Linked DNA regions of Homo sapiens: regions 1, 3 and 4 are each linked to region 2. The links come from fine-mapping of genetic effects on gene expression. A gene starts in region 2. Each other region holds a variant in brackets. All regions are shown on one strand. Distances are from middle to middle.

Region 1 (5,445 bases), 41 kb before region 2:
CGATAGGTGTATCCTCTAAGAACTGGTTTTTATGTCGTATCTGGTGTCTTTGAGGCCTAGATAAGACCAAAACATGAGACAAGTGGCAAAGGCAACATCTTGGGAGGAAGGGAAAGGGTTGACCAAGGCTTGTCCCCTATTTTAACTGTTCTTTGCTTCTTCCCTTTTTCCAGTTCTTATTTTTGCTTCTGAATACAAAATGGTTTTGCTGAATCATTTAAGTGAATCCCCTTTAGGGGAAATACACATGCCTGGAATCACTTTCTAAAGCCAGGCCTTTTGTAGGGATGAGAACTCAAAGATAATATGGCTGGGTGCGGTGGCTCACGCCTGCAATCCCAGCACTTTGGGAGGCTGAGGTGGGCGGATCACTTGAGTTCAGGAGTTTGAAACCAGCCTGGCCAATATGGTGAAACCCTGTCTCTACTAAAAATACAAAAAATAAAAATAAAAAAATTAGCCAGGTGTAGTGGCGGGCATCTGTAATCCCAGCTACTTGGGAGGCTGAGGCAGGAGAATTTCTTGAACCCAGGAGGCAGAGGTTACAGTGAGCCCAGATAGCGCCACTGCACTCTATCCTGGGAAACAAAGAAAGGCTCCGTCTCAAAAACAAAAAATTATATATATATATATATATAAATAATAGATGGCGGCCAGGCGTGGTGGCTCACGCCTGTAATCCCAGCACTTTGGGAGGCTGAGGCGGGCGGATCACAAGGTCAGGAGATGGAGACCATCCTGGTTAACAGGGTGAAACCCCATCTCTACTAAAAATACAAAAAATTAGCCGGGCGTGGTGGCGGGTGCCTGTAGTCCCAGCTACTCAGGAGGCTGAGGCAGGAGAATGGCGTGAACCCGGGAGGCGGAGCTTGCAGTGAGCCGAGATCATGCCACTGCACTCCAGCCTGGGCGACACAGCGAGACTCCGTCTCCAAAAAAAAAAAAAAAAAAAAATAGATGGTTAAAAATAAACACCATGGCACTTCTTGATGAGTACATTTAAGTAACTGCACAAGTCACAGTAGCATGGAAGAATCAGGATTTGAAGTAGACTCCAAATCCATCATTCTGAACTTTTGGCTGGAAGAAGAATAGTGATTAAAGTGTTTCCCAGCTGTGAGAGCCTGACAAGTTTTGTCCATCTCCATGATACACAGTTTTCTCATCTATAAAATGGAAATAATAATAGTATCTACCTCTTGGGATTATGAAAAGAATTAAATGAGATGATATATGTAGAGCACAACATCCCTCAACACAACTCTATAGGTAGCCACCTTATTCTGCACTCATAAAAGGCAGGTCTCAAGAACACAACACACAGACCCTGTGGGAGCTGCATTATCCCAGCAAAGAAAAAGGAAAAGCATTCCCTCGCTTCATTTCTGCTGATTTTGAAATAATCATCAGTGACTAACAACTTCACTGAAACAATACAAAAGTTTCCTTCTTTTTTTTTTCTTTTAGAGATGGGCTCTTACTACGTTGCCCAGGCTAGTCTCGAACTCCTGGGCTCAAGCAATCTACCCTCCTTGGCCTCCCAAAGTGCTGGGACTACAGGCATGAGCCACTGTGCCTGGCCTAAGAGCTTATTTTTGGAAAAACAAACACGAACTTTCATTCAGTTTCCTATGCCAAATTCCATGCCTTCTTCTGCTCTCATGACTGACTCACGAAATAAAGATGTGTACAATCTTTCTAACACAGTGGCTCTCAACCGGCGGGTTATTTTACCCACCCACCTCCACCCCAAGAGGATATTTGGCAATGCCTGGAGACATTTTTGGTTGTCAGAACCGGGCTGGAGGTGGCAAGGCGTCGGGGGATGATATTGGCATCTAGTGGGTAGAGATGAGTGATGTTGCTAAATATCCTACACTGCACAGGAAAGGCCCCACAGCGAAGTGTGCAAATGTCATTGGTGCTGAGGTTGGGAAGTCCTGTTCTAACTCTATGCTGTTGACTGATCACTGTGGGATGCTGGCCACTGGCCACTTAAAGCATCAGGGCCAAATTCACTTAAAGCATCAGGGCCAAACGCTTGCGAGCCAAGAGACCAGACATGAAGATAAACGTAGTTAAGATCCAGTCAAGATTCTATGAAGTAGGAAGTACATAAAACAGGGAGGAACTAGATCTCAGTGGTCAGAAGAAACAGATGAGACTCAGGAATATGAAAGTTGAGATTTTCCAGAGACAGTGACAAGCCAAACCATCTTTTTTTTTTTTTTTTTTTTTTTTTTTTTTTTTTTTTTTTGACAGAGTCTTGCTCTGTCACCCAGCAGGAGTGCAATGGCACGATCTCGGATGACTGCCTCCCGGGTTCAAGCGATTCTCCTGCCTTAGCCTCCCAAGTAGCTGGGATCACAGGCATCCACCACCAAGCCTGGCTAA[G/T]TTTTTGTATTTTTAGTAGAGAGGGGGTTTTGCCATGTTGGCCAGGCTGGTCTTGAACTCCTGACCTCAGGTGATCCACCCACCTTGGCCTCCCACAGTGCTGAGATTACAGGTGTGAGCCACCATGCCCAGCCCCAACCATCTTTTATTGAGTGTAATCAAATAGCAGAGACTGCCCTCTGCCTTTTTGTATCATTCACACCTAATAAACTGTGATCTTAAGATCCAGGATTTTAGGGCGACTGGATTTAAAAAAGACTGTATACGCTCCTGAAGCTTGAAACAGATCAAGAACATGTCATAACATGTGCAAATGGCTCTATTTTATTTTTCAGATGTTTCTTTCATCACTTTTCAGTGTGATCACAGTCATTGGTGCTCTGTATTGCATGCTGATATCCATCCAGGCTCTCTTAAAAGGTCCTCTCATGTGTAATTCTCCAAGCAACAGTAATGCCAATTGTGAATTTTCATTGAAAAACATCAGGTAAGTAACTTGATTTTCACAGGCTTACTGTCTCACACAGTTGAACTAGTTTGATTAGATTAATGCAGTACTGGAACAATGCCATGTTTTTATTTGATGCAACTGCCGGGACAAACGGATTCTTAGGAATTTTAGTACATTAACGCCAGTTAGCACAACTCCACATCAAAATGGAGGAATCATTAGATTTACAATGCTCTAAAAGGACTTTTAGATATTGTCTAAAAGGACTAGTTGATCTCAAATGGCTTATGCTTGTCTTTCAAAAATCTACAGTTACATATGTGTATGTATATTAAAAAATTATGCAAATATACACCAGAAACTTAACTTTCATCCTTGGAGAATGGAAATAGGGGATTCCCTTTATGAGAGTGAAGAGAACATTTACTTTCTACACTTCTGAACTAATTAAATTTGTCAACCATGAGCAAATATTACATTTACAATTTAAAAAATTTAATAAAAACACAATAAATAAAATGCAGAGCCTTGCCTGTAGGCTTAAATGGAAGAGCAACCAATGGATTCATACAGATATGCTATAAATATACTGTATGCATGGGAATGAATCCAAATTTTAAGTCATGTAATAACAAGTAATACTGGAGAGTTACATGTACTTAATAAGTGGCTCATTTTAGTCTTTTAAGTACATCATTCTGTGACTGAATCTAGACACAATTTGTAAAAACTGGAAGAAAAAAACTATCTAATCCATTACCTCTCTGTATAGCCTGCTCAGTTTAGCAAATAACCAGAATTTACTTTTGTAGTTACATACAAAAAATTTTTTCTCCTTTTCCCTTACCTTGCTACATTAAAAAAGAAAGTCCCTCAAATTTTGTGTAGCATATTTGTTTTGAACCAAAACCCAAGGAAGGCCAGGCACAGCGGCTCACGCCTGTAATCCCAGCACTTTGGGAGACCAAGGCAGGTGGATCGCTTGAGGTCAGGAGTTTGAGATCAGCCTGGTCAACATGGTGAAACTGCATCACTACTGAAAATACAAAAATGAGCCAGGCGTGGTGGCACGCGCCTCTAGTCCCAGCTACTCAGGAGGCTGAGGCGGGAGAATTGCTGGAACCCAGGAGGCGGAGGTTGCAGTGAGCCAAGATCAAGCCACTGCACTCCAGTCTGGGTGACAGAGTGAGACTGTGTCTCAAAAACAAAGCCAAGGAAAGTCTCCTTGCTAATAGACTTGAAGTAAAGGGTTAAAGATTTCTACCACAGATGCTATGCACATTAAATCCCCAGGGAATGACAACAGCCCACAATGTACCAGGCACCAGGCTACGCTCTGCAGACAACAGCGCTCAGATATTCTCAGCCTAGTTGCGGAGATGGGCTAGGCTAGCAAAGTTACAAGAGAGTGATCCTTGGCTTGCTACACATTTCACAAAACACTCATATTCCATGTGCTGAAAATACTGTTGTTTTCCCAGGTTGAATGTCAGTTGCTGATATCCAGCAATGCAAACTCCCTAAGAACATTCCATTTTACTCTACAGTAAACAAACAAAAAATCATCTTGAGATAGATGTATTAGGGCTAAAAGTTTCTCATTTTCCACAGCCCCGTTAAGAACAGGCACATCACTTTAATCAGACATATTTAATCAGTAAAAACTGTACATCTGGTTGAAGAACGGACGCCACGCTGTAGTTCTGCACTAAGAACTGAGCTCATTTAATGGGGGTGGCGGGGGGTAGGGGAGGCTCCTTAGTTTTTATATCTAGCAAGTAGAAGAGTATCTGAATAAATAAAATAAATAGGTTGAACCACGAAAAACTGTTGACATTCAACTATTTCTGACATCCCAAAACAGCAGTTTCATACCGTTCAACCTAAGAGAAGATGTACCATAGAGATGCTTGTTAAATGATGGGCTATATAAGTAATAAAAGTTTTGTAACTAGTAGAGTATATGGACACATGCTCAGAAACCCTGATCTCTGTCATTTCTGGGCACGATATTTCAAAAGTACATTCGTTTCACTCATTCTTTTATGTGCACAATGCTACTTTCCTTTGGTCAGGGATATTTCTGAATATCTGATTTTTATCTTTTGTTTTTCAGTGACATTCATCCAGAATCCTTCAACTTGCAGTGGTTTTTCAATGACTCTTGTGCACCTCCTACTGGTTTCAATAAACCCACCAGTAACGACACCATGGCGAGTGGCTGGAGAGCATCTAGTTTCCACTTCGATTCTGAAGAAAACAAACATAGGCTTATCCACTTCTCAGTATTTTTAGGTCTATTGCTTGTTGGAATTCTGGAGGTCCTGTTTGGGCTCAGTCAGATAGTCATCGGTTTCCTTGGCTGTCTGTGTGGAGTCTCTAAGCGAAGAAGTCAAATTGTGTAGTTTAATGGGAATAAAATGTAAGTATCAGTAGTTTGAATTAATTTGAGAAGTACACTTGTTTTCAAAGTCATCTTTGAGATGATTTAAAAAATCAACCCTTCACGTAGAAAGCACGTTGTAAATGCATAACACTCTCATATCAGTGGTTGATTTGGGAAAGGTGGAGAGAATTTTCAATTAGTTTTGTGTTGTACT
Region 2 (5,445 bases):
AGAAAATAAAGGTGGATGCTGAAATGCCAACTTCTGGAAAAAGCCAAGTTCTCCTGTAGCTGAACTACTTACATTTAAAAAGTAACTGGATTTCTACTAAGATTTAACACTGTATTATCCCAATTATTGGGTTTTCTGCTTAAAACCAATCAAAATCTGATTTTTTTTCTCCCTCGTTAGACTGTGGCATTTCTGATAATATCTTTTGGCAATAAATAAACGTCTCATTTGGTGTTGATATGTTAATTCCAGAAGTTTTGTACCTTAGAATCCAGTAGGCAACCAGTACGTGATTCTGTTACATAACAAACGAGGCAAAATCTCTCTTAGAATCACAGATGATTTCATATTTCTACTTTCTAAGCCCAGTGGTTCCCAAACACCAGTAACTAACTTGCCAACTTCATGGGTTTTTTTTTTCCCATATTCACAGAGTACATTAACTTTTTGCTACAGTTAATTTTTTTAACTCGACTTTTTAAAATCAAAAAAGTATTGTAAAAGAAAATTTTGTATCACTACCTTAAACCATGGCTGTACATATATAAATACAGATTGCAAAAACATCCTATTACAAAAAAATCCTCATCCACGTACCGCCTAGAGTCAAGTCACATGCCACTAGCGGAAAGTGTACCAATTTTGGGACACAATGATTCCAGCCCAACTTTCTCATTTTCTGTATTAGAACACTGGAACCCAGAAAGCCTCGGAAGTCACCGAAACAACTTGAGTCAAACTGACTGTGGTTGCAAATGTTTATGTACTTTTCAAAAACAAACATACAAACAAACAAAAACAAACCAAAAAAAACCCTCCAGTTGTTTATTACCTACTGCGTGGACCTAGTTCACACAGATGGGCCACTCTGCACACCCTGTTTCAGTTCTTTTTCAAAGAAACTATATTTAAAAAGTCACTGCAAACTTTTAAAACTATATATTAATGAACTTTAAAATAAGGTTATGAACCCACAGAAAAGTTTCAATACCAGAAGAGAGGAGAGCGAAGACTAAACTTTGCAATTCTGAAAGGAGGCAGCTCTATCAGACAGGAAGGGAGAGAACACAATTTCCTTTTGGAAAAAATGGCAAAACCAATATACAAGCCTTTGAAACCAAAAGATAGAAGGTCCCCCAAGCAATTTAATTGCATGGGAAAAGACTACTAAGTATAACTAAATCGTCCTAATTTTCCTAAGGGTTTTTCTTTTGGGCTCTCATTAGCCAACGGAATTGAGGCAGAAAAAATGTTTTTCACGCAGGGAGACAAAACATTTGTGATCATCTTAAGTCTCTCGGTGGATGAGAGGCCTGAATACAAATGGTTCTATATTTGGGCAGAAGGGCCAGAAACCTTTTTTTTTTTTTTCCCCTTTAATGTTCTCCAATGAAAACATGTCACTTTTGAAAGGGTGCTCTTCCCTCGAGAATGCCCTTTGCTTCTAACTTTGTGGGAGGTAGACAGGGGTGTTCTTTTACGATAGTAATAGTAGCACACGTCCTGCAGAGGAAGGTCAGAAGCTCGGCGGAACAGGAACCGCAGCTTTCCTCCGGCTTCCCAGCTCCTGGAAGGAAACCCGAGAGCAACTGCCTGCAGCCACATCTGCGAGCAGGGATGCTCACAGACGGACAGGGTGGCCCGCAGCCACCCGCGATGCCACAACCTGGGCTTCCAACAAGGCCCTTCTTTTCCAAAATGTACTTGCCACAAAACAACACAAAAACCTCCTTTTAAACAAGGCAGGTTTAAGGTCAGCCTGTAAGGTGTCAGGGCCTTGGCAGGGAAGGATGAGTGAAGACCTGCAAAGCCCGGCGTTCACGCTCACGGGACTCCCGCTGCTTCCCAAACCCCTATTTTCCAGTCGGAAAAGTCCGGGTTAATACACAAAAGGAGACGCCGAACCACACAAGGTGAAGAGGTTCGCCCAAAAACACCTGCAGAAGACGCTCCTCTCCCTCGCTCTCCTCGGGGACTCAAGGTCCCGGGGAGGAGGAAAGACCAGGGTTGAAGGCAAGAGGCCCGGGGACGGGACTCGGGTCAGGGAGACACTACCGGGGGGGCCGGGGCCACCGCGGGTCCCTGTTGGCCGGAGGGTCTCGGCGGCGGCGATAGGCCTGGCAGCCAGCTCGGGCGGCAGGTCGCGGGTCGGGAAGACGTCAACACTCACCCCTGGGCCCACAGGAGGGTCCCGGCGAGGACCCCCGCCCTCTGGCTCCCGGGGCGCTCGAGTGGGCGCTCTCAGAGGTGGTTGGCTGAGAGCACGGAGGCGCCCAGGGACAGCACCGGCGGAGCGGCCCGCAGAGGGCCAGGGCAGAAGCGCGAAAGGCGCGGGCTGGCCCCTTCTGGGAGCCGTAGCGGAAGAGTGTTCGTGGTCATGTGACGCGGAAAAGGGCGGACGCGTGGCCCACGCACTGGAACGGCTCCACGGTAAGCGATGCGCAGACATCTTTGTTGTGGGCGAAACGAGGTGACCGCAGGTGACTCCTCTTGCGGTTAAGTTTAATTCACACTTCGGCTTTATTAGATTTTGTAATCTTTAAGAACTTGGTGTTTGCAAGGTAAACCTTTGGTAGCCAATTAAAACAACTTTTTCAGGACCATCTGGCATGAAAATTTCTATGCTGTGAGGCTTAGGAATTCTCATATGTAAATCAGCTCCGCCAGTGATTCCATGAGTTCCAATTTGATACTTCTTAAGCCCTCGGTTGATCAGACCTTGTCTTCCATGAGAATTCCGGGAGAGGGGAAGTTAAGTTTCACAGTAGTTGGCGGCATCGTTTAGCTTTGGGAGAGCACTCTCTGCTTCTGAACACCCAACCACAGACTCTTCCCCCCAGGAAGCCCTTGCTTAGAGCGGGGGAAAAATGGTACAGTGCTTGTCAGTATGGGAATGTACTGAGGCCAAATAATGTGATATTTTATATGCCTTGGTTTTCACAAACACCTAAAGGTGTACACATGACTTATGTACTCCCCTACGATCTAATTGATATTCTAGAGATGTTACCATTCTTCAAAATGATTTGGGAAGCCCTCTGAATTGCGTTCTTGGGCTTCTTAACACTGGTGTAGGGAAAGTGAAAATATTTCCTCTCCCCTCTTGGGGTCTTGGCTGGGCCTAAGAATTAAACTGATGAGGAAAAGAGTCAAACTCTAAAATATTTGAAGAGATTTATTCTGAGCCAAATGTGAGTGACCATGGCCCGTGACAGAGCCCTCAGGAGGTCCTGAGAACATGTGTCCAAGGTGGTTGGGGCGCAGCTTGGTTTTATGTATTTTAGGGAGGCATGAGACATCAATCAAATAAATTTAAGAACTACATTGGTTTGGTTCAGAAAGGTGGGACAACTCAAAGCAGGGGCTTCCAAGGCTGTAGGTAAATTTAAACATTTTCTGGTTGACAGTTGAAGACCTGGGACCCATAGAAAGGAAATGTTGAGGTTAAAATAAAAGATTGTGGAGACCAAGGTTCTTTTGAAGTCTTATAGTGGCTGCCCTTAGAGACAATGGATGACAAATGTTTCCTATTCAGATCTTTAAAAGGTGCTAGATTCTTACGTAATCTCTTTAGGATTGGGAGGACCTGGAAGAAAATGATCTAGCTATGTTAATAGAAATTCTATGTAGATGCAGATTTTCCCCCAACAAAGGACAGCTTTGCAGAGCCGTTTCAAGATATGTCAAAAACTAAAAAAAATGTTTTGCGGTAAAATATTTTGATTTTGTTTCTTGTCTCGTTATGCCAGTGTCAGATTGGAAAGTAAGTCACAATATATAGGGTTAAATAAAACCCATCTGATGAGAATTTATGGATTGTAGGGCATGAATCCCTAGGCCCCTTAGATAGGAATTTGAGCAAGATTAAAAAAAAAATCAGAGCTTAGTCTCCACTGACGTAAAATAGAGACATAAAACATAACAGGAGGAAAGCATACAAATTTTATTTAGTAATTTTTACATTTACATTGGAGCCTTCCCTAGAAAAATGGAGACCCAAATTAACAGTTGGACCCTAAGTGCTTTTGAGTCTCCATTTTTCTAGGGAAGGCTAAAAAGAGTAGTAAATTGTGAAAATGTGAGAAAACAAACAGATTTGGGTTAGTGCAGTTAATGCAGAAGTGACTAAGAAGATAAAGGTTGTTGTAACAAAGTGGAAATGAAAATCGGTAAGTTTGTGCAGATACAGCTCAGCTTTGACTCCATGTCTCTGGTGTTGAGAACATCTCCCTTCCTCCTTATACAGGGAGGGCACCTTTCATACGGAAGTTTTATCTCCTGCTTTCAGGAAGGAAAAAGGAAAGCCACAGTGCTCTTTTTGCATTTTTTTTTTAAGTGCCTTTGACTCGAAAATAATCTTTATGCCAAAGTGCCATATTTTGGGTTGGCATATCCTACTATTGACAGAGCAGAAGCACTGCCATTTTAAAGTGCCCCTTGATCAAAAACCACCTAAATCCAACCCAGAGGGCATCAGCCTAATGGCTGTCAGCATGACCACAAACCACAAATGACACCTCCGACCAGAAACATTCTAACTCTAAGATAAACCCCTCTCCCACCAGACACATGCCAGCCCCAAGATAACCTTCCCTCTGACCGAGCGATGTCAGCCCCAAGATAACCTTCCCTCTGACCGGAGCGATGTCAGCCCCAAGATAACCCCTCCCCTCCAACCAGAGACATTCCAACCCTGTAATAAACTTCTCCTCCAAGCAGAAATATTCCAAGCCTGTGATAAGCTCTCTCACCCTAAACCCTTAAATACTCTTAGTCTGTAAGAGAGAGTGCTCCTGACCAAAATTGGCCAGAAGCCCCTCTCAGGTTTATTCTCTAAAATAAACCTATCCTTGATTGTTGAGCCACTTTTTGTGTTTCTCTCTTCTTTCTTTAACTCTTAACAACTACCCTACAGAGACAAATAAGCCTTTAAGAATAGATTGATTTTTAGGAATAATAAGTCATTCCAAGTCAATCTTTTGTGGGAAGATAGAGATCAAGTTGGGAGATCATGCATTAGGTTGGTTCTGAGGACTAAGCTCTGATTTTTTTATCTTGCTCAAATTCCTATCTAAGGGGTTTGGGGAGTCATGTTCTCCAAACCATAAATGCACATCAGATGGGTTTTATTTAACCGTGTATATCATGACTTACTTTCCAATCTGACTCTGGCATAATAAGGAAGAAAATAAAAATATTTTACCCAAAAATATCTTTCCTTGCCCTACCTTGAAATTGTCCTGCAAAGTCTCTTATGGGAAAAATCCACATTCTGTAGAGAATCTGCTTTCCCCTTTGTTTTCCTTCCTTCTGTGTCCGGAATTGGTGGGTTCTTGGTCTCGCCGACTTCAAGAATGAAGCTGCGAATACTTGCGGTGAGTCTTACAGTTCTTAAAGATGGTGTGTCATGTGTCCGGAGTTTGTTTCTTCAGATGTTCAGATGTG
Region 3 (5,445 bases), 44 kb after region 2:
GCCTACAGAAAACAGGATTCCATTCAAATGGAGAAAAGGAACATAGAAAACAGCAAAATCAAATACTGTTGCTCTCTCAGAACTATTTTTCCCTCCAATGAAACATAACTTTTTTTGCTGCAAAATAAATGAACATTGTTTATGCTTCCTGCTATTTAGAAAGACACTCTATCACTTACCCCTCTGCCCTGGTGTGCCTGGGTTCCCAGGGGGCCCTGGAGGGCCAATGGCTCCAGGAAAGCCCATCATCCCAATCACTCCATCTTCACCTATGGAAACAAATTAACACAAAGCAGCACGTGTTGTACAGAGTGAGAAAAGCAAAATATTCCATATACTAAAATAAATTATACTTAGAAGCAGAGATTGGGAGTTGAAAAAATGGCCTCTGTACATAGTACAATTACTGTATTAGTCTAGGAGATGGGTCGGTAAGTGGTCTTTTAAACTCACCTATGTGGAAGTGATTGGTAGCAAATCATATTCATGGATGAGGATAGCATATGTGGAAGTTTTGGAGCATTCCATCCTCCCAGCCCCTGACCAGTCACTTTCTATTCTATCCCTTCACTTTATTTTCTTCATAACACTTGTCTCAAATTGAACTTAGATTTTAAATATTTCTATTATTGATCCTCTACTATGAGAAGGGGAGACTTGTCCACTGACTGATGTGTCTCTAGGGCCTAGAAGAATGCTGGCATGTGATAGTAGCCCAATAACATGAATGAAAGGATAATGTGTCGATTAAGTTGTTTTAGGCTCTTTTCCAGAGGGGAGATCGGTGAGGTCCTTATGCCATGAGGGAACAGAATATTCTCCCCAAACATATAAACAATAAACATAGCCATGAAATTAAAACAATTATACAGAAATATGATGAACAACAACAACAAATCAGATAACTTATAAAAATGGACAAGTTTCTAGAGAAACAGAATACCAAAACTGACTCCAGAAGAAATAGAAAACCTGAATATACCTATAAGAAATGAAGAGATTGAATTAGTCATTTAGAGACTTCCCAAAAAGAAATGCCCAGACCCAGATAACTTCACTGGTGAATTCTACCAAATGTTTAAAGAGCGTCGATTCTTCACAAACTGTTCCAGAAAATACAAGAGGAGGAAACACTTCCCAGCTTGTTCCATCAGACCAGCATTACTCTGACACCAACACCAAAGACATCACAAGAACGCTACAGACCAATATCCCTTCTCAATATAAATGCAAAAATTCTCAACAAAATACTAGCAAGTATATTATAGTAGTCGTATATAAAAAGGATTACACAGCAAAAATAGCCACATTCTGGGTAATTGTTCATCCTGCCGCCACCGTTTCCCTGCACCATGGCCCCTGGTTTCTTACAAATAATTTAGAAGGAAAACCTTATATTAAGTAAAAGCATAGAGTAAAAAGCGTATGCCTATGTACAGTTGACAGAGCCACCTTAAGAAGAAGAAGAAATAAGAAGAAAAATAGAAACACACAAAAGGATACCTGGTGGCCCTAAAATTCCCGGATTTCCTGGATATCCTCTTTGACCCAGTGGTCCCATTTCACCTTGATGACCTGGAATTCCTGGTGATCCAGTTTCTCCAGGAAATCCTGATCTATCCAAGCCTGGAATTCCTGGGTCTCCCTTTGGCCCCGTTTTACCTCTTCTGCCTGTGTACGAATAAATGAATGAATTAATTAACCCACAAATGCTTTCCCCTACTAACTTCAGAAATATATATATATATATATATATATATTTTTAAGATGGAATCTCCCTCTGTCTTCTAGGCTGGATTGCAGTGGGGCGATTTCGGCTCACTGTACCCTCCGCCTCCCTGGTTCAAGTGATTCTCCTGCGTCAGCCTCCCAAATAGCTGGGACTACAGGCGTGCACCATAATGCATAGCTAAGTTTTGTATTTTTAATAGAGATGGGGTTTTGCCATGTTGGCCAGGCTGGTCTCAAACTCCTGACCTCAAATGATCCGCCCACCTCGGCCTCCCATAGTGCTGGGATTACAGGCATGAGCCACTGCACCCGGCCACTTTAGAAATATTTTATGGCTGTAAATATTTAGCTTTGTGATTTGGGGTAACTGCACACTTACGCATG[C/T]GTGCGCATGTGTGTGTGTATGTATTTAATGTCCCCTCTGTAAAATTTCTGAGCTCCCTTCTGGCTCTAACATTCTCTGCTCCAATGATTTATGCAGTAATACAAGTGTAGTCTTTATATCTATTTTCTAGTCCTGCAGACACATTCTGGGACTGCACCTTATGAGTGCTGCTCACTCTGTTTCCTGCAGAAGACATACAGAGCCGTTCGCATAGAGGTAAGCCACTGGATGCCTCTGGAAAAAATAATAATGCCACTGTAACAGTTAAGGTCTTGGTCAAAAATTTATTTGTGAACATATAAGCAGTATGATAGACCACAGACATTAACTGATTTCTAAATACATTTTTCCAGGAACAGTTCATCAGATCTGATGAGGAGAGGATCCAAAAACAAAGTTTTCCATCATCTGGAACATCTAGCCTGCATCATTTAGATTTATTTTCATGTTTTTTCTTTTATATTGTATGTAAAACAATCAACTACATATTTTAGTTTATAAGTTTTTAAACTGGTATCATTGCATACATTTACCCTATTTTAATAATAAGGATAAACTTACCACTTTAATATATTTATGAAAATATTAAAGGTAAAATGTTTTCTGAGAATTTAATATGTATATAAATATATGTAAACACACACCAATCTCTGTCTTCAGCATTCATATTTTTCTTGCATAAAAGACACAAAGCAACTCACTATATTAACTTCAAGTTTCTTCCTTTATAGGTGGTACACACTACTGTGTGCAACAAACCCATAACAGCAAGGTTTACACTTCTGAAGTATTTCTCATTGAACAGTGGTCAGGACTTGTGGCTGGACAGTTCCCATGTTAAGCAGCAAAGCACAGAGCAGGAGTCTCATGTCTCCTGCCCTTCTGGTGGCCAGTTTTGAGGCCCTCCTCCTACCTTGTTGCCCTTTCAATCCATTTAAGCCTGGAAGTCCTTGGGCTCCCCTGGGACCCTCTATGCACCTTCCTGGGGGTCCTTGTTCTCCAGGTGGTCCAGGCTGCCCTGGATCTCCTGCAAAAGAAAGCACAAGTATATACCCAGGTGCTAGAACTTAAGGTCTTGGTATTGCTGTACCAGTCATTCTTCTGTTAACTTTTTTTCCACCTAAATCAGATCTATATTTACTGCCATTAATATGCCTTTTCTAGAGGGCACTCATTAAAAAAGAAGGAAGGAAGAAGGAAAGAAGGAAGAAAGGTAGGGCAGGAACATTGGATGGGAGAATTCTTCATGCCTAGAACACCTTCACATTCAGTTTGCTGCATTTTAGCAGAGCTCACAGTGGAGAAAAGTAATGACACTTGCTATTGTACCTCGTGGTCCATCAAGCCCTTCATTTCCTGGAGTTCCAGGGAGACCTGGAAGTCCAGGGAGTCCAATTTCTCCATGTTCCCCAGAATTGCCTCTTTCTCCTGGAAAACCTGGTGTTCCTGGTCCTCCAGGCATGGCTACTGCTGGTTCTCCCTACAGCATAGAAATTGTGTTATTACTATATAGTGCTTCCAAATCTTCACTGATATTGACTCTCTGTTATGGAGGCTCTAAGTCCCTGTTGCACAGCCACTACCATGTCATCAACTTTCCTTTTTGAGCTCTAGTTGCTGACTTTTCTGTAAGATTATGTTTAATAATACTTCAGGATATGTAGCCTCCACTTTTTCAGAAGACTGTGGGATTGTCTATAAAGAGAAAAATCTAGATGTTTTTACTTTTGATAGTTTTTCTTATAGCTAACCACATTTCTTTCTAGAGTTGTCCCATTTTAAATACTCTGATTATTTATGAAACCATTAAAGATGATATCACGATGAAATCTGCATTCTGACACCTTATGTTTTCCTTTCTAAAATGGAAGATGATCCAGAGAAACATTTAAAAAATTTAATATCTTCATCATCTACAAATATATTGATCATTTCTACATCTAGAGTGCTCTGCCAGATAAGTGCATACAAACTGGCCAGTTAATGGTCACCCACCCTCTCTTCTGTGATAGCTTGAATTTTTGCATACCTTGGCTCCTGGGAGGCCTGGCTTTCCAGGTAACCCAGGCTCTCCCATTTTTCCAGGACAACCCAGTGATCCTTTTGTACCTGGAAAACCTTGGTCTCCTACAGAGAAAAAACAATAAACATTGTTGTAGGATTAGTCTTATTGAAATATTCTGAGCAGTAACTCTCTTATCTCTCAACCAGCTAGAGATGCTTTTATGAAAATTTAAATGATAATAAAACCAACTGATAAATTAGCAATTTTTTAAAAGTTCCAAATCAAATTACATTGGTTCCTATTTGAAAAAATAACTTTCTCTATTTTGTTGTTTAGTAGGGCCATGATTTTGATTCAGCAATTCTTCAAACCACTGATGCTGGTTGACCATTTGACTTTGTTTTTGAAGTATTTTTTACATACAGTGTACAGGTAAGTGGATTTTTATATATGGATATATTCATGTAAGCATGACCTAGATTAAGATACAAAGCTTTTGGCTGGGCATGATGGCTCACACCTATAATCCCAGCACTTTGGGAGGCCAAGGTGGGTGGATCACTTGAGACTGGGAGTTCGAGACCAGCCTGACCAACATGGAGATGGAGAAACCCCATCTCTACTAAAAATACAAAAACAACAACAACAAAAAAAACAACAACAAAAAAACTAGCCAGGCATGGTGGCACATGTCTGTAATCCCAGCTACTCGGGAGGCTGAGGCAGGAGAATCGCTTGAACCCAGGAGGCAGAGGTTGTGTTGAGCTGAGATAGTGCCAATTACACTCCAGCCTGGGCAACAAAAGCGAAACTTTGTCTCAAAAAAAAAAAAAAAGATATAGAACGTTTTCAGCACCCCAGGTAGCCTTTCTCAACAGGGGTTGCTTAAGAGAATTAAGTCTTAATGCCCTATAGCATCCATTGCATGCAAGGGATTAACTTCTTATGCATTTATAGTAGGTGACTTGAGAAAGGGGTCAACACACTTTCTGTGATCTCTGGTTCAGAAGAGGAAGCCACGGTGAAGCAAGGCTGCATTCAGGGAGTTCCTTCATACCCTAATTTGACCAATATTTAATTTGCAGTTAGTTCATGGGATTCATTAGATTCAATTGTGAAATTGTAAATCTCCACTTTCAAGGAGCTCTTGGGCTAGTTCTGGTTCCCACAGTCAACAGTCTTCTTCCAGAGAGTCAATACCTAGAGTTACAAAGTAGGGATGTAATTTATTAATGCAGGGTCCAAGAAGAATGAAGTACAAATGTGAGGCAGACTCCCTTACTTCACAGATCATTAGGAAGAAAACCAAGAAATTGGACTCAAA
Region 4 (5,445 bases), 52 kb after region 2:
AACAACAACAACAACAACAACAGAGCATTTGGTGATGGATTAGAACAGGGCTAAATAAACTTTTGCTGTAAAGGGCCAGATAGTAAGAAATTTAGGCTTCGTGATTGAAATCTACCCAACTACTCAATTCTGCCATTGTAGCATAAAAGCAGCCAGAGACAGTACATACAGGAGTGCAGCTGTGTTCCAAGAAACTTTATTTATGGATACTCTAATTTGAATTTCATGTAATTTTCATGCATCACAAAATATCATTAAACATTTTTTTCAATCATTTGAAAATGTGAAAACCATTCTTAGCTTGAGGATCATACAAAATCAGGCAGTGGGCTGGTCTTGGACTGTGGTCCACCACCGTTTGCTAGTACCTGGATTAGAACAGCAGCCTCCTTCGGCCAGGCATGGTGGCTCATGCCTGTAATCCTAGCACTTTGGGAGGCCGAGGCAGGTGGATCACCTGAGGTCAGGAGTTCAAGACCAGCCTGGCCAACATGGTGAAACCCCATCTCTACTAAAAATATAAAAATTCGCCTGGCATGGTGGCAGGTGCCTGCAATCCCAGCTACTTGGGAGGATGAGACAGGAGAGTAACTTGAATTTGGGAGGCGGAGGTTGCAGTGAGCCAAGATTGCGCCATTGCTCTCCAGCCTGGGCGACAGAGCAAGATTCCATCTCAGACAAAAAAAAAAAAAGCAGCTCCAAAGTAAGGTGCAGATAAACATAAATATTTATTTGTTTATTTAATATATAGAGAAAGTCATAAAATAAGATTTACATACATGTGTGGACAGAAATGATGCATACATTTATAACATATAATGTAAGGTTGTGCACTCAAAAAGTTTTACTGATGAGGGAAGACACTACAAAATGATTTAGAGGTTTACTGGGTCTTACCCTTTAAAGTGATTTTTAAAATTTATTTATTTATTTATTTATTTATTTATTTATTTTTGAGACAGTATCTCAATCTGTTGCCCAGGCTGGAGTGCAGTAGCACGATCTTGGCTCACTGCAACCTCCACCTTCCAGGTTCAAGCGATTCTCCTACCTCAGCCTTCCAAGTAGCTGGGACTGTGGGTATGTGCCACCATGCTCAGCTAATTTTTGTATTTTTAGTAGAGATGGGGGTTCGCTATGTTGACCCGGCTGGTCTTGAACTCCTGACCTCAAGTGATCTGCCCACCTTGGCCTCCCAAAGTGCTGAGATTACAGGTGTGAGTCACTGTGCCCAGCCTAAGGTGATTTTAGAAGTAAAACATGACCATGTTGGCATTATTTGCTCAAAACTATCAGTAGCATGCTATTCTGACCTTCAGCCACACTCCTGAATCCAGAACTACGGCCAGTATATGTATATCCCAAAAGTTACCTGGACTTTTAAACTATTATCAGACCATTTTCCTTCATTTGTCTTAGATATTTTAAAGTTTTATTTGTAACCTGCCTATGGAGTTATGGATCAAAATCAACAAATTTGTGGCTGCGCACAGTGGCTCACGCCTGTAATCCTAGCACTTTGGGAGGCTGAAGCAAGGATTGTTTGGGGTTGGGAGTAGGAGACCAGCCTGGACAACACAGCAACATCCTGTCTCTACAAAAAATAAAAATAAAATATATATTAGCTGGTCGTGGTGACACGTGCCTGTAGCCCCAGCTACTCAGGAGACCAGGCAGGAGGATCTATTAAGCCCAGAAGTTTGAGGATGCAGTAAACTATAATTATGCCACTGCACTCCAGCCTGGGCAACACAGTGAGACCCTGTCTCTAGAAAACCACAAAAAACAAATTTGCAATAACGCTTAGGATCTATTCATTTCATATATATATATGTATGTATGTAATAGATATAGAATATTCTAGGAAATTTCAGTTGAATTGCCCAGTAATGGAGAAAAAATGAGTTTTCTCTAACATACCCTACATATTCTTTCCTGGTATCTGTGAGTTGACATATTCTATTCGTTAGAAGCAAGTTTCTATATTTTCCTTAGTCTTGGAGAAGCTTCGTTAGCTCTAGAAACCATCAACCCACTCCATCGGAAAACAGGACTGGAAAGAAAACTAACCAACCGGCTTCTCCGGGTGGTCCGGGGGCTCCAGGAACTCCTTGCGTGCCCTGGAGACCAGGTTCTCCTTGGGGTCCGTAGCCAGGTGGTCCAGCTGGTCCTGCAGGTCCTGGGGACCCAGGGGAGCCAGGATCCCCTGGAGGACCTTGGTCCCCTTTCTCACCACTCAGAGCCTGTGACAACAGGAATGTGTTTGAATCGTGCTTCATTCCAGTATATTCTTACAACAGGTTAATCATCCTCCAAATATGAATACCAGTTAGGCTGTCATTGAGATCTTGAATTAAAAGCATTTGGCATTTGATGAGAATTATTACTAAAGTAAGAGCACTGCAGGTTTCTTCCGTTTTGTGTCCTTTGGAGTTTAGCAACATTTTTTGAACTTGGAACTGTCTTGAGTCCCACTTGAGATATCTTACAATGATGGGTCTCCCATATGGTAATAGCCACTAAAACTATGTTCAAATTGACCAATAGTTC[A/T]AATGACTTTAGTGGTGATATTCATGATAATGTTACATTTCTGAAATAAAATGAGCACAGCAAACCTTTATTTCTGGTTTCACCAGGTATTTTCATGACAAAGGGGATTTCCCACTTCCATTTTCTCTCATAAACTGTCTAGTTTTTAAATCTTCATATGCTATAACCTTGAAAATGATTTGTAGATTTAAAAGAAATTGAATTTGACAAAATAATTTAAGCCCTCTTCCTTCCCAACATGGCCCTCTGAAATAAATTTGACTCAATTTTTCATTGTTCAATATCATCAGATGGCTAAGTGGTCTGTCTCCTTTTTTAATGACAGGGTGTAAGACTCAACAAATCACCACCTTGATTTTTCTCTCATTTACTTTATGGAGCATCTTTACCAGAACTTATAAAGAAAAATCAGTGAGATGCAAGTAGGGACATCATACAAATTCTCTTAATATTAGACCATCAGAATTCTGGCACTGTCACTTTATAAGCATAACTACCACAAAGTGAACAACCTGGGACTTGGCCAAGGCAGGGTCTGAGAACTGCTGGCACCATAGATGCTGCCAGCCAAAAAGGGTTTTGTAGTCAGAAGCATTTAGGAAAGACCAGATAGCTTATCTTCATGTGGAAGACTCACAGTTCATATTCTGATATTAAAGGGTCTGTAAATGAATCTTTAAATTTGTTTACCAAGTTTCTCCAAACCTCTTTGAGGTAAGATCTGTTTTATTGGCTAACACAGATTAGCCCTGGGAGAAACTGGTATTTCATAGAATAGTTTGGGCAGCATCCCTTGCAAACCTCTTGTAAATACATTATGATGACAGGTGCTCACCCTCTCACTCTGTGACATTTTAAAATAAATCTTAGGTCTGGGTGCAGTAGCTCACACCTGTAATCCCAGCACTTTGGGAGGCTAAGGTGGGTGGATCACCTGAGGTCAGGAGTTCGAGACCAGCCTGGCCAACATGGTGAAACCCCGTCTCTACTGAAAATACAAAATTAGCTGGGTGTGGTGGCACATGCCTGTAATCCCAGCTACTCAGGAGGCTGAGGTGGGAGAATCACTTGAACCCAGGAGATGGAGGTTGCAGTGAGCTGAGATTGCACCATTGCACTCCAGCCTGGGCAACAAGAGCAAAACTCCCTCTCAAAAAAAAAAAAAAAAAAAAAAAAAAAATCTTGGTAGGTATTACCTCAATTAAATATGTGAGAAACTCTCTCATGAAAAGGGATTAAATTTCCATAAAATTAAATGAATGACAAAACATTTAATCTCTTTATTTGACTACCATACCCCTAAATATGCTGTCTTCTTATGCATTTATTTTTATTTAAAAATATGGACATCGCCCCAAAATATTTACTAAACTTTCTACTATACATCATTTTCTGAACTTTTCCATAGACTCATTTGATACAAATATGGAACTGTAATTTGTGTATGAGATGGGGTCATTATCAATGTAGAATTTTGATTGGTTGAAATCACTGAATGCTACCTATTTATTCTGTCAAAATACTATAACTATTTGCTTGGGTTATTCCTGCTAATTTGAAGATGTTTCATTCTGCAGTTAGAGTGATGAACTGTGCTGAGCGGCCAACCATTTTTGGAAAAGAAATCACTTTATCTCTTAACTTCAGAGTACTTCATTTATAGGGAGGGTAAAGTTGCTAAATACCAACCAGTTCGCCTTTAGGTCCTGGTAATCCTTTCACTCCCGGAGTTCCAGGAATTCCATCCAAGCCCTTTCTCCCAGGTTGGCCTCTGAGCCCCGGGTCACCTGGGACACCCACTTGCCCCTCAGGCTGAAGTGTTTCACCTTTTTCTCCTTTAAGTCCTGGGTCACCCTGGGCACCTGGGAAACCCTAGGGTAGTACACAAATGAATCTGTATTGTATTTTGTTAGAATTCTTCTTCTGTCAATCTTAAAAACAGTGTGGACAAGAACTTTTCAATTTTAACATGAATTTTTTCAACACACTCTTTGGTCCACAACTATTATTACAAGCATTTTGTTTGTTTTGCTTTGTTGTTAACTTCCAAAACTGAAAAATAATTCAGTTAGATAGTATAATTCAAAGCAATACAGACAATAATATAATTTAATACCATAGAACAATCACCATAATACAGGTTATGTTTGAATATTGGTAAATTTTAACAAGCCTCTTTGAATAGTTTGATCTAAGTATATTTATCTATAACTTTTTGATTCACTATGACAGTCAAGATTCTAATTTTTAACGGACTTATTGAGGTATAATTTACATACCATAAAATTTCTCCTTTATAAGAGTACAATTCAATGATTTTTAGTAAATTTATAGAATTATGCCACAATCACCACAATCACGTTCAAACATCTCCATCACTCTCCCAAATTCCCTCAAACCTATTTGCAATGAACCTCTGTTCCCACTCTCAGCCCTAGGCAACCACTAATCTGCTTTCTGTTTCTGATACCATTTCAAACTGTTTATAAATTCATTGACTCATTCACTTAATCAGTCACAGATTTATTCATTTAATCAACAGGTATCTATTAAGTGCCTACTGTTTGCAAGGCACCAAACTGGTAAGTGTGTTGCAACCATATTTCTAGAGTGTGCAATTTGTCAAATTGAAGCTAAAGATTTAAAAACATGAAATCTTACTGGAAATCCTGGAAGACCTGTATTTCCTGGGGACCCTGGGCTTCCTTTCAAGCCAGCTGCGCCTTGTCTTCCTGCAAATCAACGAATTATTAACTAACTCCTCATTGAACGCCAACTCTAAGTAGACAGGGTAATACAATGTATGAAGAAAATAGAGTGTTTCCTTGTGGGGAAAGAAAGACAACTTCTATCATAAAACATAAATGCAATAAGAGAATGGGAGTAAATAACAGA

Alleles and levels. Alleles are on the strand shown, and positions count from the first base shown. SD is a standard deviation of normalised expression in the study named. Not every link is listed here.
In carriers of allele T in region 1, the expression in monocytes after R848 of the gene that starts at base 2,347 in region 2 tends to be lower than with G alone (moderate effect, 0.64 SD a copy in Quach 2016).

Evidence for each region. PIP is the estimated chance that this variant, and not a neighbour inherited with it, causes the effect.
Region 1: its variant is the best candidate, but not a certain one, in a credible set for the expression of MFF in monocytes after R848 (Quach 2016, PIP 0.79).
Region 3: its variant is the best candidate, but not a certain one, in a credible set for the expression of MFF in whole blood (INTERVAL, PIP 0.73).
Region 4: its variant is the best candidate, but not a certain one, in a credible set for the expression of MFF in whole blood (INTERVAL, PIP 0.78).

What each region holds. Positions count from the first base shown.
Region 1 is chr2:227,363,529-227,368,973 of GRCh38, reverse strand. It overlaps TM4SF20 (transmembrane 4 L six family member 20), which reads left to right. Exons shown (of 4, transcript NM_024795.4): 3 at 2,730-2,881; 4 at 4,962-5,445. The coding sequence ends at 5,250. Among named protein-coding and RNA genes, the nearest start is that of TM4SF20, 13 kb to the left of the region's middle. The variant G/T (reference allele first, on the strand shown) is at 2,395.
Region 2 is chr2:227,322,153-227,327,597 of GRCh38, reverse strand. MFF (mitochondrial fission factor) reads right to left here and starts at 2,347. Exons shown (of 9, transcript NM_001277062.2): 1 at 2,171-2,347. It overlaps MFF-DT (MFF divergent transcript), which reads left to right and starts at 2,434. Exons shown (of 14, transcript NR_102371.1): 1 at 2,434-2,480. RefSeq lists a silencer at 2,006-2,295 and an enhancer at 2,476-2,525.
Region 3 is chr2:227,278,591-227,284,035 of GRCh38, reverse strand. It overlaps COL4A3 (collagen type IV alpha 3 chain), which reads right to left. Exons shown (of 52, transcript NM_000091.5): 29 at 4,146-4,243; 30 at 3,446-3,596; 31 at 3,030-3,143; 32 at 1,504-1,671; 33 at 180-269. MFF-DT (MFF divergent transcript) reads left to right here. Exons shown (of 14, transcript NR_102371.1): 3 at 2,247-2,332; 4 at 4,461-4,553. Among named protein-coding and RNA genes, the nearest start is that of MFF-DT, 44 kb to the left of the region's middle. The variant C/T (reference allele first, on the strand shown) is at 2,116.
Region 4 is chr2:227,269,747-227,275,191 of GRCh38, reverse strand. It overlaps COL4A3 (collagen type IV alpha 3 chain), which reads right to left. Exons shown (of 52, transcript NM_000091.5): 24 at 5,212-5,282; 25 at 4,240-4,422; 26 at 2,075-2,243. The region is part of intron 4 of MFF-DT (MFF divergent transcript); the gene reads left to right. Among named protein-coding and RNA genes, the nearest start is that of MFF-DT, 53 kb to the left of the region's middle. The variant A/T (reference allele first, on the strand shown) is at 2,551.